Linked DNA regions of Homo sapiens: regions 2 and 3 are each linked to region 1. A link means that fine-mapping ties the variant in region 1 to the plasma level of a protein whose gene starts in the linked region. Region 1 holds a variant in brackets. A gene starts in each other region. All regions are shown on their reverse strands. Region 1 holds the start of LOC107987463 (a long non-coding RNA gene). Region 2 holds the start of PI16 (peptidase inhibitor 16). Region 3 holds the start of TXNRD1 (thioredoxin reductase 1).

Evidence for each region. PIP is the chance, under the fine-mapping model, that this variant and not a neighbour inherited with it causes the effect. Protein levels are from antibody-based Olink assays in UK Biobank. Linkage for the fine-mapping came from a reference panel and not from the study's own genotypes, which makes the PIPs less certain.
Region 2: it holds the start of PI16, and the variant in region 1 is fine-mapped to the plasma level of the PI16 protein (UK Biobank, PIP above 0.99).
Region 3: TXNRD1 starts here. The variant in region 1 is fine-mapped to the plasma level of the TXNRD1 protein (UK Biobank, PIP above 0.99).

What each region holds. Positions count from the first base shown.
Region 1 is chr19:54,246,125-54,250,351 of GRCh38, reverse strand. LILRB5 (leukocyte immunoglobulin like receptor B5) reads left to right here. Exons shown (of 13, transcript NM_001081442.3): 13 at 1-931. It overlaps LOC107987463 (a long non-coding RNA gene), which reads left to right and starts at 2,406. Exons shown (of 3, transcript XR_007067341.1): 1 at 2,406-3,134; 2 at 4,072-4,227. The variant G/C (reference allele first, on the strand shown) is at 1,994.
Region 2 is chr6:36,952,699-36,956,925 of GRCh38, reverse strand. It overlaps PI16 (peptidase inhibitor 16), which reads right to left and starts at 2,188. Exons shown (of 7, transcript NM_153370.3): 1 at 1,995-2,188. The coding sequence starts at 2,165.
Region 3 is chr12:104,213,797-104,218,023 of GRCh38, reverse strand. TXNRD1 (thioredoxin reductase 1) reads right to left here and starts at 2,245. Exons shown (of 17, transcript NM_001093771.3): 1 at 2,131-2,245. The coding sequence starts at 2,221. RefSeq lists enhancers at 1,237-1,852, 1,853-2,469 and a silencer at 2,293-2,382.

The DNA of each region.
Region 1 (4,227 bases):
GGACAAAAATAACAAGAGGAGTTACTAATGAGGGCTACGTGAAAACTCGATGAAGCCAAAAAAGCTCATTCTTGAGAATGTGAATTACATTCACAAATCCTAGCCACAATAAGCAAGGAAAAAAGCGGGGTTCAGGCACACATTTCCATATGGGGGTGAAACAGCAGACACCACCACAAATCTGACACATATTGCCTTTATTTTTTTCACTTTTAAGTTCAGGGATACATGTGCAGGTTTGTTAGACAGATAAACTTGTGTCAAGGGGATTTGTCTTGGTTTTTGTGTGAGGGTTTTTGTTTTGTTTTGTTTTGTTTTTTGAGACGGAGTCTCGCTCTATCACCAGGCTGGAGTACAGTGGAGTGATCTCGGCTCACTGCAACCTCTGCCTCCCGGGTTCAAGCGATTCTCCTGCCTCAGTCTCCCGAGTAACTGGGACTACAGGCACCTGCCACCACGCCCGGCTAATTTTTGTATTTTTAGTAGAGACAGGGTTTCTCCATGTTGGTCAGGCTGGTCTCAAACTCCCGACCTCAGGTGATCCGCCCGCCTCAGCCTCCCAAAGTGCTGGGCTTACAGGCGTGAGCCACCACGTCCAGCCCATACATTTCAATTTTAAAGGGATGCGCCCTAGTCCTTAGTTAGTCTCTCCTCATCTCTATAAAATGTTCAGCTACTCACCTCTTGGGCTATTGCTAGACATCGTTTTCTCTTCCTTCTTTCTGACGCCTACAATAGATAGGACATTCCCCCTCCTCATTCTATTCTCCCAAGTACTTTAAATTGCAATTTATAAAGTTTCTATGCTACACTCTAAAAAAAATTCTGTTTTGTTTTCTAATTTCATAATTGGTGCTTCACTGTGTCTTGTCCTCGAAGGAATGAGTATTTTGATTGTGTTCATTAAATCTGATTTTTCTATGTCTTCTAATTATTTTATATAATATTCATTCTGCTGTAGAAAAAAAAATCATATAATCCTGCCTCAGAAATTCAATGTCCTCTGTATTTCTCAAATATTTAAACATGTTTAACCTAAGATGGGTCTCACACATTCCTAGTACTCCTTTTGACCATGATAATCCTCATTAGTGAGTGTGGATTGTCAACCATAGCACTTTGTGTTTGATTTTTTGGTTTGTTTTTTGTTTTTATTTATTTATTTATTTATTTTTTGAGACGGAGTCTCACTCTGTCACCCAGGCTAGAGTGCAGTGGCGTGATCTCAGCTCACTGCAACCTCTGTCTCCTGAGTTCAAGCAACTCTCCTACCTTAGCCTCCCGAGTAGCTGGGACTACAGGTGCCCGCCACCACAACCAGCTAATCTTTTTTTTTTTTTTTTTTTGTATTTTTAGTAGAGATGGGGTTTCACCGTGTGGCCAGGATGGTCTCGATCTCTTGACCTCATGATCTGCCTGCCTCGGCCTCCCAAAGTGCTGGGATTACAGGCGTGAGCCACCACGCCCAGCCTGTGTTTGTTTTTGAGACAGGTTCTTGCTCTGTCACCCAGGCTAAAGTGCAGTGGCGCACCACCCCAGTTCACTGCAACCTCCGCCTGCCAGACTCAAGCGATCTTCGACCTCAGGCTCCTAAGTAGCTGGAACTACAGGTGTGCACCACCACACCCAGTTCATTTTTGTCTTTTTAGTAGAGATGGGGTTTCACCATGTTGCCCAGGCTGGTCTCGAACTCCTGGGCTCCAGCGATCTGCCCACCTCGGCCTCCCAGAGCGCTGGGAAAATAGGCGTGAGCCATCGCAGGCAGCCAGTCATAGCACTTTTTATCATTAGGATGATTCCTCTTTCTTCTCATTCTTGGACACTCATCTCCCAGTGCCTCATCTGCCAGAGAGGGTTTCTACCAGGGCTGCACTGGGCGTTAGGCTTGAAAAGAGGAGGACGGCACCACCTGCCCGGGTCTTGTGAGTCTGCTCAGGCCTGTAACCAGCAGGGGAGGGTCCAGTGTGAACCTCATGTCTGACAACTCTACAAT[G/C]AATCTATTTCACACACACAGAGGGGGAGGCTCAGGGCTGACCATAAACCTGAGTCAATGAGCAGAGATACCCCAGTGCCATCCACAAACACAGGGGACGAGGAGCCACAACTTCCCACTTTCACCCAAAACCCCAACCCCTCCCTGACTGTGAGGGCCCTGGGGTTCTCCTCTGTCTCATATAGAGGCGGAAACCTCCCTTTTAGTGATTCCCTGACATTGCAAGTCACCAGAAGCCAACTCAGCTCTGACCTCGCTGCTTCCTGAGGTTTCCTGCCTGTGTCAGGAAGTTTCATTTCTCATTTCCTTCTATGGCTGCGTATTTCAGAAACATGTATTAGTCAGGGTTCTCTAGAGGGGCAGAACTAACAGGATAGATGTATATATAAAGGGGAGTTTATTAAGGAGTATTGATCCACACGATCACAAGGTGAGGTCCCACAATAGACTGTCTGTAAGCTGAGGAGCAAGGAAGCTAGTCCGAGTACCAAAACCTCAGAAGCCGAGAAGCCGACAGTGCAGCCCTTCAGTCTGTGGTCAAAGGCTCTGCATGGGAAGGTCAGGGATTGGCAGAGTAGGAGATGGACCTGGCTGGGCTGGGGGTGAGAGCAATGCAGGGTCCGTCCTGTACAGCCCACTCCCTCCCCCAGGCCCTGCTGTGCTGGGGAAGGGAGGGTTGTAAGGAGGACACAGCCCCAGATGGAGACACTAAGACAGGCCCCTGCTGTCAGATGAGAAGACCCAGAGCAGGAAGCAGGTGTCCACCTGGTGGGGCAGCAGGAGGACAGCTGGGGAAAACACAAGGTCCCAGGTTCCCCTCCCAGACCTGCTTCTTCCAGGCTGGGGGGCCTGGGGCAGGCGATTCCCCCCTCTGAGCCTCAGTTTGTGCATCTGTGAAATGGGTTGGGGGGTTGGCAATCCCACGTTGCACGACTGCTGTGAGGGTTAGAGCTCATGAAGACCCAGCACGCGCCTGCACACAGTAGGTGCTCACATCAGCGATGTCATCCTCATTCCCGACGTCATCACGCGCAAGGTCTGGGAAGATACCTGGGGGTTGTAACCGGGGTCTCAGTGGCCTTTGTCCTGCCGCTCGTCCTCCTCCTCCAATGTCGGCGTCAGAGCAAACACAGGACATTGGGTGAGCAGGGACTGGGGGAACCTGTGGGCCCACCGAGGGTGGGATCAGGGCACCAACCAAAGGGGAACCAAACACACAAGAAAGTCAGCTTAGAAAAACAGCTCCAGAAAGTCCCAGCTGAAAAATCTAGAAAGAAGAGAATAAATATGAGTGTATGTGCAAGTAATTTATTCTTTGAGCTTTTTATTTTATTTTATTTGAGACGTGATCTGGCTCTGTCACCCAGGCTGGAGTGCAGTGGTGTGATCTCGGCTCGCTGCAACCTCCACCTCCCAAGATCCTCAATGATCCTCCTACCTCAGCCTCCTGAGTAGCTGGGACTACAGGCCCCTATCACCACGCCAGGCTAATTATTTTTTTGCGGGGGAGAGATGGGGGGTCTCACTATGTTGCCGAGGCTGGTCTCAAACTCCTGAGTTCAAGCAATCCACCCGCCTCAGCCTTCCAAAGTGCTGGGATTATAGGCATGAGCCATTCGGCCCAACGTCTTCGGGCCTTTTTAAGTGTATCCAGTATTTAAAACAACTATGCCTGTAATCGCAGTACTTTGGAAGGCTGAGGCAGGTGGATGGCTTGAGCCCAGGAGTTTCAGAGGACTCTGGGCAATGTGGTGAGACCCCATCTCTACAAAAAAAATTAAAAATGCAAATAAGCCAGGTTTGGTGGTGTGCACCCGTGGTCCCAGCTACTCAAGACGCTGAGGCAGGAGGATCACTTGACCCTATGAGGTCAAGGCTGCAGTGAGCTGGGATCGCACCACTGTGCTCCAGCCTGGGCGACAGAGCGAGACCTTGTCTCAAAAAAAAAAAAAAATATATATATATATATATATATATATGGGTGTGTTTTCAAGTTTCATTTTTTCCCCTAAAGTCGCATGTACTGGGTGGGTGGTTCTAAGGTTCCCAGGGCTGAGACTTTGTCCTTCTTCACCTAGCCCAGAGAGAGGCTGATTTCCAACACCCTGCAGGGGCCGTGGGACCAGAGCCCAAGAACAGGGGTCTGCTGAGGAGGTAATTCTGCCCAAAGACCCCAGACTCCCACACTCCACCACACCACACTCTCGTGTCCTCCCCCAGGTCCAGCCCAGCTG
Region 2 (4,227 bases), not on the chromosome of region 1:
GGGTGGCAAAACTGGTGCTGATTAGCTCTGGAGGCTGAGAGAGAAGGAAGAGTTCATGATAACCCCCACCTGCCTCACCCTGGATCCATTCCCTCTTTTGTGTTAATCAGACACTTACTGAGCACTTACTGTGTGCCAGGCATTCTTCTGAGTGCTTTACACATATTCACTCACTTAACCCTACAACCACTGTAGCTACAAGGGAATTATCCCACTGTTATCATCCCCATTTTACAGATGAGGAGACTGAGGCACAGAGAGTTTAATTTGGCCAAGGTCACAAAGCTAATAAGTAACAAAGCTAAGATTTGAACCCAGGCCATTTGGCTGCAGAGTCCCTGCCCTCACCACTGCTGAGGTTGAACCTGAGTCTTGTCCTGAATGTTTCCTGGCATCCCAGCCCCAGCCTCATCTCCTCCTCCTCATGTCACTCCCCATTAGGCAGCAGCATATCCCCTCAGTATCCCAACTGCCTCCCAGAATGTTGCCCCACTCCAAGGCGCACCTCTGTCTGAGAAGCAGCTCCCAGCCTGTGTGGCCCCCAGTCTCAGCCAGCAAGACTGTAGGGCATCAGGGATCTACAGGTGGGGAAACTGAAGTCCAACAATGAGTCACAGGCCTCAATCAGGGAGCTGTTGGCAGAGCTGCATCTGTGACGCCTGGTTTGTTGTCCACCTTTCCTCGATGTGCAGGCTGGCACAGCTGTGAACGGCAGTGCTGGGTGTGTGCAGAGCTCTTCCTAGATCTTTCTTACGTGTCATCCTGTCTGACGCCCAGGGCAGGGATCGCCAGCCCCATGTTTCCATCTGGAAACAGAGGCCTTTGAAGGGAAAGGGGTCCACCCAGAGTTACTTCAGCCAGATCACATTAGGCTGAGGTTAGAACTTAGGTTTGGGGCCCCAGGCTCACTGTTATGTTCCCCAAGGTGCATCTGTTCTCTCAGGCACCAGCTCCAGGGGTCCCTGAACACTGCCCAGCAACCTCCCCAGTCACCTGAGGGTGGCTGGAGGGGACAAGCTAGTTCAGCCCTCAGGGAGGGCAGGAAGTGGGTGAATTTCTCACTTTATCTCCTTTAATTCTGCATATAGACAGCCCGCCTCTCACCCTACCATAAATAGCTCTTCCTGACAGAAGTAACCAACCCTAAATCTGGCTTCTGTCTCCTGTGTGCATGTACATGTAATGTTTACTACATCTGCGTGTTTCACCAGGACATAAATAGTATTTTTACATGTTTTCAGACTTCATGTAAAGAGATCCTACTGTGTATTTTTTAGAGATTTTATTTCCTCCCCCATTCAGTATGATATCTGTGAGATTCAATCCACACTGGTATATACGTAGCTCTAATTCTGACCGCCTTTTACAGATGAGACACGGGATCGGCAAGGTTACAGGACTTGCCTCGAATCATAGGTCTTGTAGGTGACCGAGACAGAATTTGGACTGTGTGATCCAGAGCCCTCTCTGCTTCTGGATCCTGCTGTCACCCACCTCCTTAGCACCTGCCTCCTACTCCACGTGCCCACGCCCATCCTGCTGCCCTGCTTCCTCTTGTCCTCTCCTTGGCAGGCATGTGAAAGACCGTTTTCACAAAGGTGTTAAGAACTTCCCGGGTTCCCCCACTGAGGGCACATGCATTTGAGGAAGTGCTGGGGAAAGCTCATTGGAGTGGGAAGCCAGGGCTTTGGGTCTGGCTCTACCAGCTGTGTGACCCCAACAAATCCCTCTGAGCCTCACTTTCCTTATCTGTATTATGAGGCTGCTTATAGGGGCCTGTGAATTTTATTAGGCGGGTGCAAAAGTAATTGTGGTTTTTGCCATTTAAAGTAATGTAATACCATGTCAGGGACTCGGGGACTCTGTCACTGACCAGAAAAAGGAGAGGAATTCTGAAATAGCTTCAGCATGAGGAGCAGGGTAAGAGAGCCTGGTGACAGACCCTGGCCAGCACCCCTTCCATCCCAGCCAGCAAGGGCCGTGGCCACACTTACCATGTGCAGCATGTCTGAGGCCGTCGGGGATACCTGGGCCCGGTAGAGGTTGTGCAGCTCCACCATCAAACGTTTCTCCTCATCTGTGAGGGCTCCAACGGGGCCTGTGGTGGCCACCAGCAGTAGCAGTAGCGGCAGCAGAAGCATCAGGAAACTGCAGGAGCCGTGCATGGTGGCCAGCCGTCTCTCCTTCTCCCGTCCAGGGGTCTGGCAGCTGGATTTAAAGTCCTTCCCACACAAGCACCACCCTGGCTGGGGTGGGGCAGTGGGGGCCGTGTTTGAGGCCCAGCCCGACTCACACAATGTCTCAGGGAGGGCTGGGCGCTTTGGGTCCCGACCAGCATCAAGTGCACTCCCCTTGGAGTCCTTGGCAAAAACCTCCTTTCTCTTGGTAACGGGGGCTCAGGCCAAAAGCTGTGTGAGTTCCTAAGTTGTGGACAGATCCTTCAGGGGCAAAATCACAGTAACCTCTGCAGAGCTGTGACTGGTTGCACCCAGGTCACACCCACTGTGTGTTGAAGATAGATAAGAGAAAGGAAACCACAGACCCTACCCACAGAGGAGTGGGCAAGATGAGGAAGCTATAGGCTTTTGAAAGGACAGAGGAAGACCAGATGTATTTGATAAAAGGCTGAGCCAACCTAAATCAGAATCCTGGTTCTGCCCCTTGCTATCTGTGTTTTGGCAGCTTTCTCAAGTGAATCAGTGACAATAATAGTACCTATCTCACAGGACTAGAGGGAAGATTCAATGACATATAATGTATGTAAAGCACCTAGTATGGTGTCTGGCACATAGTAGGCCCTCAGTAACAGTAGACAACCCACTCATGTGGCCTGGGCCTTAGCAGGCTACCAGCCCCCTGTGGAGGCAACATTCTTGCCTGCGGGGGGAGAGGCCAAGGTCTTCCCCACTCTAGCTGTATTCAGGAATAAGGCCTTTCACTATGGCAAAATTTTGGCTTCCAGGTATCCTCTCTGAATGCATGTGCTTGACATGCTCATTTGGAAGTGGGATGCTGGGACCCCTGTGCTCTAACTATGTAGAAATATAATGTGTCTGTTTCTTAAATCAAGAGAGAGCAGAAAAGCAGAAGGTTGAATGAGCTGATGCACCAGGAGCTCTGAGGGGAAGGTATTGGAAGGGAAATAGCCTTAGCAGTCAGGTGCTGGCATTATAATGACCTTGACCTTGCAGGGGCCATGACCGGTTCATGAAGCAGGAAGCTGGAACCAGTACTCTTGAGGACAGCTGGGATCCTTGAAGCCTGCTTCTTCAATGAATAGGGACCTAGAAAAAGTCTACCCACAGGCTTTGGAAGATGACAAGAAAACCTGTCCCTGCCTGAGTCTCCAAGTAAAAATAAAAACAAAACCAAGATGGATTACACACACATACACACACACACACACTTATTAGAATTAATAAAGTCAGCAAAGTTGCAGGATACAAAATTAACACATAGAAATTAGTTGTTTCTATACACTAATAATGAAAAATCCAAAAAGGAAATTAAGAAAACAATTTCATTTATAAAAGCAATGAAAAAGAATAAAAAGAATAAAATTCTTACCAATAAACTTTTTTTTTTTTTTTGAGATGGAGTCTCGCTCTGTCACCCAGGCTGGAGTGCAGTGGCATGATCTTGGCTCACTGCAACCTCTGCCTCCTGGGTTCAAGTGATTCTCCTGCCTCAGCCTCCCAAGTAGCTGGGACTACTTGCCCACCATGCTGCCCACCATAGCTGCTACCATGCCCGGCAAATTTTTGTATTTTTAGTAGAGATGGGGTTTCACCATGTTGGCCAAATGGTCTTGATCTCTTGACCTCGTGATCCGCCCGCCTCGGTCTCCCAAAGTGCTGGGATTACAGGTGTGAGCCACTGCGCCTGGCCCTTAGCAATAAACTTAACCAAGGAAGCAAAAGACTTGTACGCTGAAAATCACAAGTGTTGACAAACAAAGTGAAAGAAGACACAAATAAATGGAAAGTCATCCTATATTCATGGATTAGAAGACTTGATATTGCTAAGGTGTCAATGTTGCCTGAAGCAATCTACAGATTCAATGCAATCCCTATTGAAATGCAAATCATAATATTTTTATAGAAACAGAAAAATCCATCCTAAAATTTATATGGAATCTCAAAGGACCCCAAATAGTCAAAACAATCTTGAAAAAGAACAAAATTGGAAGTCTTACAGTTTCTGATTTTAATATGTAACCACAAATCT
Region 3 (4,227 bases), not on the chromosome of region 1:
GTGTGTATATATATTCCATTTTGTGTGTGTGTGTGTGTATATATGTGTGTGTGTATGTACATATACACACACACAATGGAATATTATTCAGCCTTAAAAAGTAAGGAAATCCTGTCGCATGCTACAATACAGATGAAACTCGAAGACAAGTATGCTAAGTGAAACAAGCCAGTCACAAAAAGACAGACACTGTATGATACCAACTTATATAAGCAATCTAAAGTAGCCAAATTTCACAGAAACAGAAAGTAGAATGATGGATACCAGGGGCTGGGGGAAACGGCAAATGAAAAGTTAACGAGTTGGCATGGAGTTTCAGATTTGCAAGATGAAAAAGTTCAGGGGATCTGCTTCACAACAATGTGAATATACTTAATACTGCTGAAAACTGTATACTTAAAAACGGTTAGGGTCAGCTGGGTGCAGTGGCTCATGCCTGTAATCCCAGCACTTTGGGGAGCTGAGGTGGGCAGATCACCTGAGGTCAGGAGTTCAAGACCAGCCTGACCAACATGGTGAAAACCTGTCTCTATTAAAAATACAAAATTAGCCAGGCGTGGTGGTGCATGCCTGTAATCCCAGCTACTTGGGAGGCTGAGGCAGGAGAATCGCTTCAACCTGGGAGGTGGAGGCTGAGGTGAGCCAAGATGGCGCCATTGCACCCCAGCCTGGGCAACGAGAGCGAAACTAAAAAAAAAAAAAAAACAAAATTGTTAAGATGGTAAATTTTTTTTTTTTAACCACACACAAAAAGAATGTAGCTAAAGAAAAACAGTAAATAAATGGAAGGACATAGATATCAAGAAGATCCTGAGGATGGCACATGAAACGTCAATTTGGGATGCACCTGCTCAAACTCCTTCATTGTACTAATGGCCACAAATTAGCTGCCTGACCTGGACCTTGCCTGACCTTGCTCCTACCCTGTTCCTTTATTCTTCCCTTCCCCTAATCCAAGTCCTTAACTCCAGCAGGATATACAGGCCTCCCTATCTCTAGCATGGTCTCACCGGCTGCTTCCCCTAACAAGAATGTTCTCCCTTCAGACACCTCTACCAAATCCTACCTCATCTATGGGAGCTGCCATCCCCACTTGGCTGTTTTTACCACTCCTTTTAGCCCTTCACCATATGCTGCCTTGTAACTAAACTGTAAGCCTTTGAAAGAGGCAGATCCTACAGCATTTAATAATTCTAGCCATTGGGCAAGGCACTTTTTGGAGCCTCACTTTCTCAAGCCTATAAAAAAGGTGGAGGCGGCCATATGACTATGACCAGGGCTTTTGAGTCAGATGGCCTCAACTGGTATCCCAGCTCTTCCACTTACTAGTTGTGTGCTTTGGGTAAGTTTTATAACCTCTTTGCTTCTCAGTTTCTTCATCTGTATAATGGGGTTTATGATAAATCTCTCAGTATGGCTGGAAACATGAACCAAGATTATTACCCATGTCTAGTGCTTCCAAAGGCCCCTCTCATGTCAGTGCTTAGTAACCACTAGCCATTATTGGCATTATCCGGACAATGGAGAAGAGACTGGGAGCTTTCTCTTCTGGAAGAACAAGTGAAAGGATAAAGCGGGATGATGGTGGGAGAAATGTGCCCAAAATTCAAGGGGATGGAGAAAGGGGGCCGGGAAGGCGTGTCGGACAAGATTCTCGATGGAGGAGGATGCTGGGAGTGGGCCGGGGGCTTCTGGAGAGGTGAAGGGGCACCCCCGGACTCGGCTGTCGGTTTGGTCGCTTCCCCCGTAACCTTTCATTGGAAACACGGTGCTTGTAGGAAGAGGACGCCCTAACGGGCCCTGAGCGAAATCAGGCGGGTCGCTGCCGAGATCTCGGTTCGGTTTCCGACAGGTTTCCGGGCAGGTCCTCGCGGCGGGCCCGCTCCTCCTTCCACCTCCCACCTCTCTCACAGCCAGCGGGCGGGGCAGCCCTCGGCCGGCCGCCGGCCTCCGTCTCCCGGGGTGACCTGGGGGAGCGTTTCTGGGGTCTCCAGCGTGGCGCGCGGTCAGTCACTGACTCCAGTGAGGGGCTTCAAGGCCAGGGCTCCGGGGCACTTTATCCCCAACCCCGGCCGGAAGGCCCGCTTCGGCCCGTCGACCTGGGGACCAGGCCTTCGCCCTCGGTCGTACCTGACCTACGGCGGCCATCGCCGTTCTTGCCTTTCGTCTGCAGCTCCGTTGGGGCGGCCGCCGCCACTGCCTTGCCCTCGGCGCAGCCCATGTCGCACAAGGCCCTGTGGGAACTGACGGAGCCGAAGGACGCCTGGCGGAGGCCGCGAGCCCCCTGCCGGCCGCGGGTCGGAGAACGCGGTGGGCGGGGCGCTCGGTGACAACAGCGAAGTCATAGCCCGTGTATCTTCTTCAAGGTCGTGAATTTTTTTTTTTTAACAGGAAAGAACGGTCGCTAAAGGTAAATTGGAAAATGCAGAAATGGAAAGGAGAAAAGAGCGCACCACCCAAAATCCTTATCCTTCGGCTGGGCGCGGTGGCTTACACCTGTGCACTTTGGGAGGCCGAGGTGGGAGGATTGATCGCTTGAGCCCAGGAGTTTGAGACCATCCTGGGCAATGTAGAGAAACCCTGTTTCTACAAAAAATAATTTTAAAAAATTTATCCTTCACACAAACTACTTTTGCTGTGTTTACTATTTCTTTCCAGTTTTTCCCCTCTATGCATAGTTTTGCATCCAGCATTTCACTTAATACTAGTATTTTCCATACTATCACATAGTCTTGTAAGCCTCCCAGATAACCACCTGGCTTCCACTGTCACTTCAGTCTTTGCCTCTTTGACCGTAGATGAAGCATACACTGAACATCGTAGTTTCTTTTTAATACACTTTATTTTTTAGAGCAGTCTTTTTTTTTTTTTTTTTTTGAGACGGAGTCTCACTCTGTCACCCAGGCTGGAGTGCAGTGGCGCGATCTCAGCCCACTGCAACCTCTGCCTCCCAAGTTCAAGCGATTCTCCTGCCTCAGCCTCCCGAGTAGCTGGGACTACAGGCGTGTGCCACCATGCCCAGCTAATTTTTTGTATTTTTAGTAGAGACGGGGTTTCACCGTGTTAGGCAGGATGGTCTCGATCTCCTGACCTTGTGATCCGCCCGCCTCGGCCTCCCAAAGTGCTGGGATTACAGGCGTCAGCCACTGCGCCTGGCCTTAGAGCAGTCTTAAGTTCACAGCAAAAAGACCATCCTATTTGAACAGAAATCTGATCACGCCCCCCTCAACTCTACCCCCACCCTTTACTTTACTCTATTTTATTTTTACCAGCACTGAGAGCCTTCTAACTTACCCTATATTCTCTGTCACCTGCTCCCACTCCCTCCGCCAGCCTCCCCACGACACCCTGCCCATGTAAACGCTGCCAAAATAGAACCTTTGCATTTTTTTCTTGTATCTTGGCCTTCAGCTTGGGCCAGGTGGCCTCCCCCACCTCTTGAAGGAAAGCAGGGAAGAAGCGGGAAAATATTAATTTGAATAATTATAATAATGTAATAGTCCATCCACTAGAGCTACTGGACGATTACATAGCCTATTATTAGATGTTTAGTTTGTTTTTTATTTTTAAAAATTATGAATAAGGCTGCAGGGAACATCTTTGTGTTTATAGTTTTAAGGCTGTCATTACACGTTGCCAAAATTGCTTTTTTGGAACTGTGGTTCCCATTTGAACTCCTACTAGTAATGAATGAGAGTGATTTTTTTTAACACCAAACCACATTGCGGCACATCAGGTGCACAGTCACTGTTCTCTATCAGTGCAGTGCTCTGTTTTTCCTTCTTTCAATTAACTAACATATGGTAAGCATCCAACTTATGCCTGGCTTTGTTTAGGGTTACAAGGTGACTCAAATTCCCTGGTCTCAAGGAACTTCCACCCCAGCTGAGATTTAGTGAACTTGTCTGGTCACCAGATGCGTGGCAATTGTGTGGGCCCTTTGTTTTCATTTGGGTTTGTGGACAAGCTTATATCCTGCTTCTCTGGAGAGCAGCCCAGAGTCAAAATGCTCTTGGAAAACACTGGGTGTTTATTTGCTTAAACACAGAAAACAAATAAAACTGAACCAAAGGCTTTTTTTTTTTTTTTTTTTGGAGATGGAGTCTCGCTCTGTTGCCCAGACTGGAGTGCAGTGGCACGATCTCGGCTCACTGCAAGCTCCGCCTCCCGGGTTCACGCTATTCTTCTGCCTCAGCCTCCCTAGTAGCTGGGACTACAGGCGTCCAC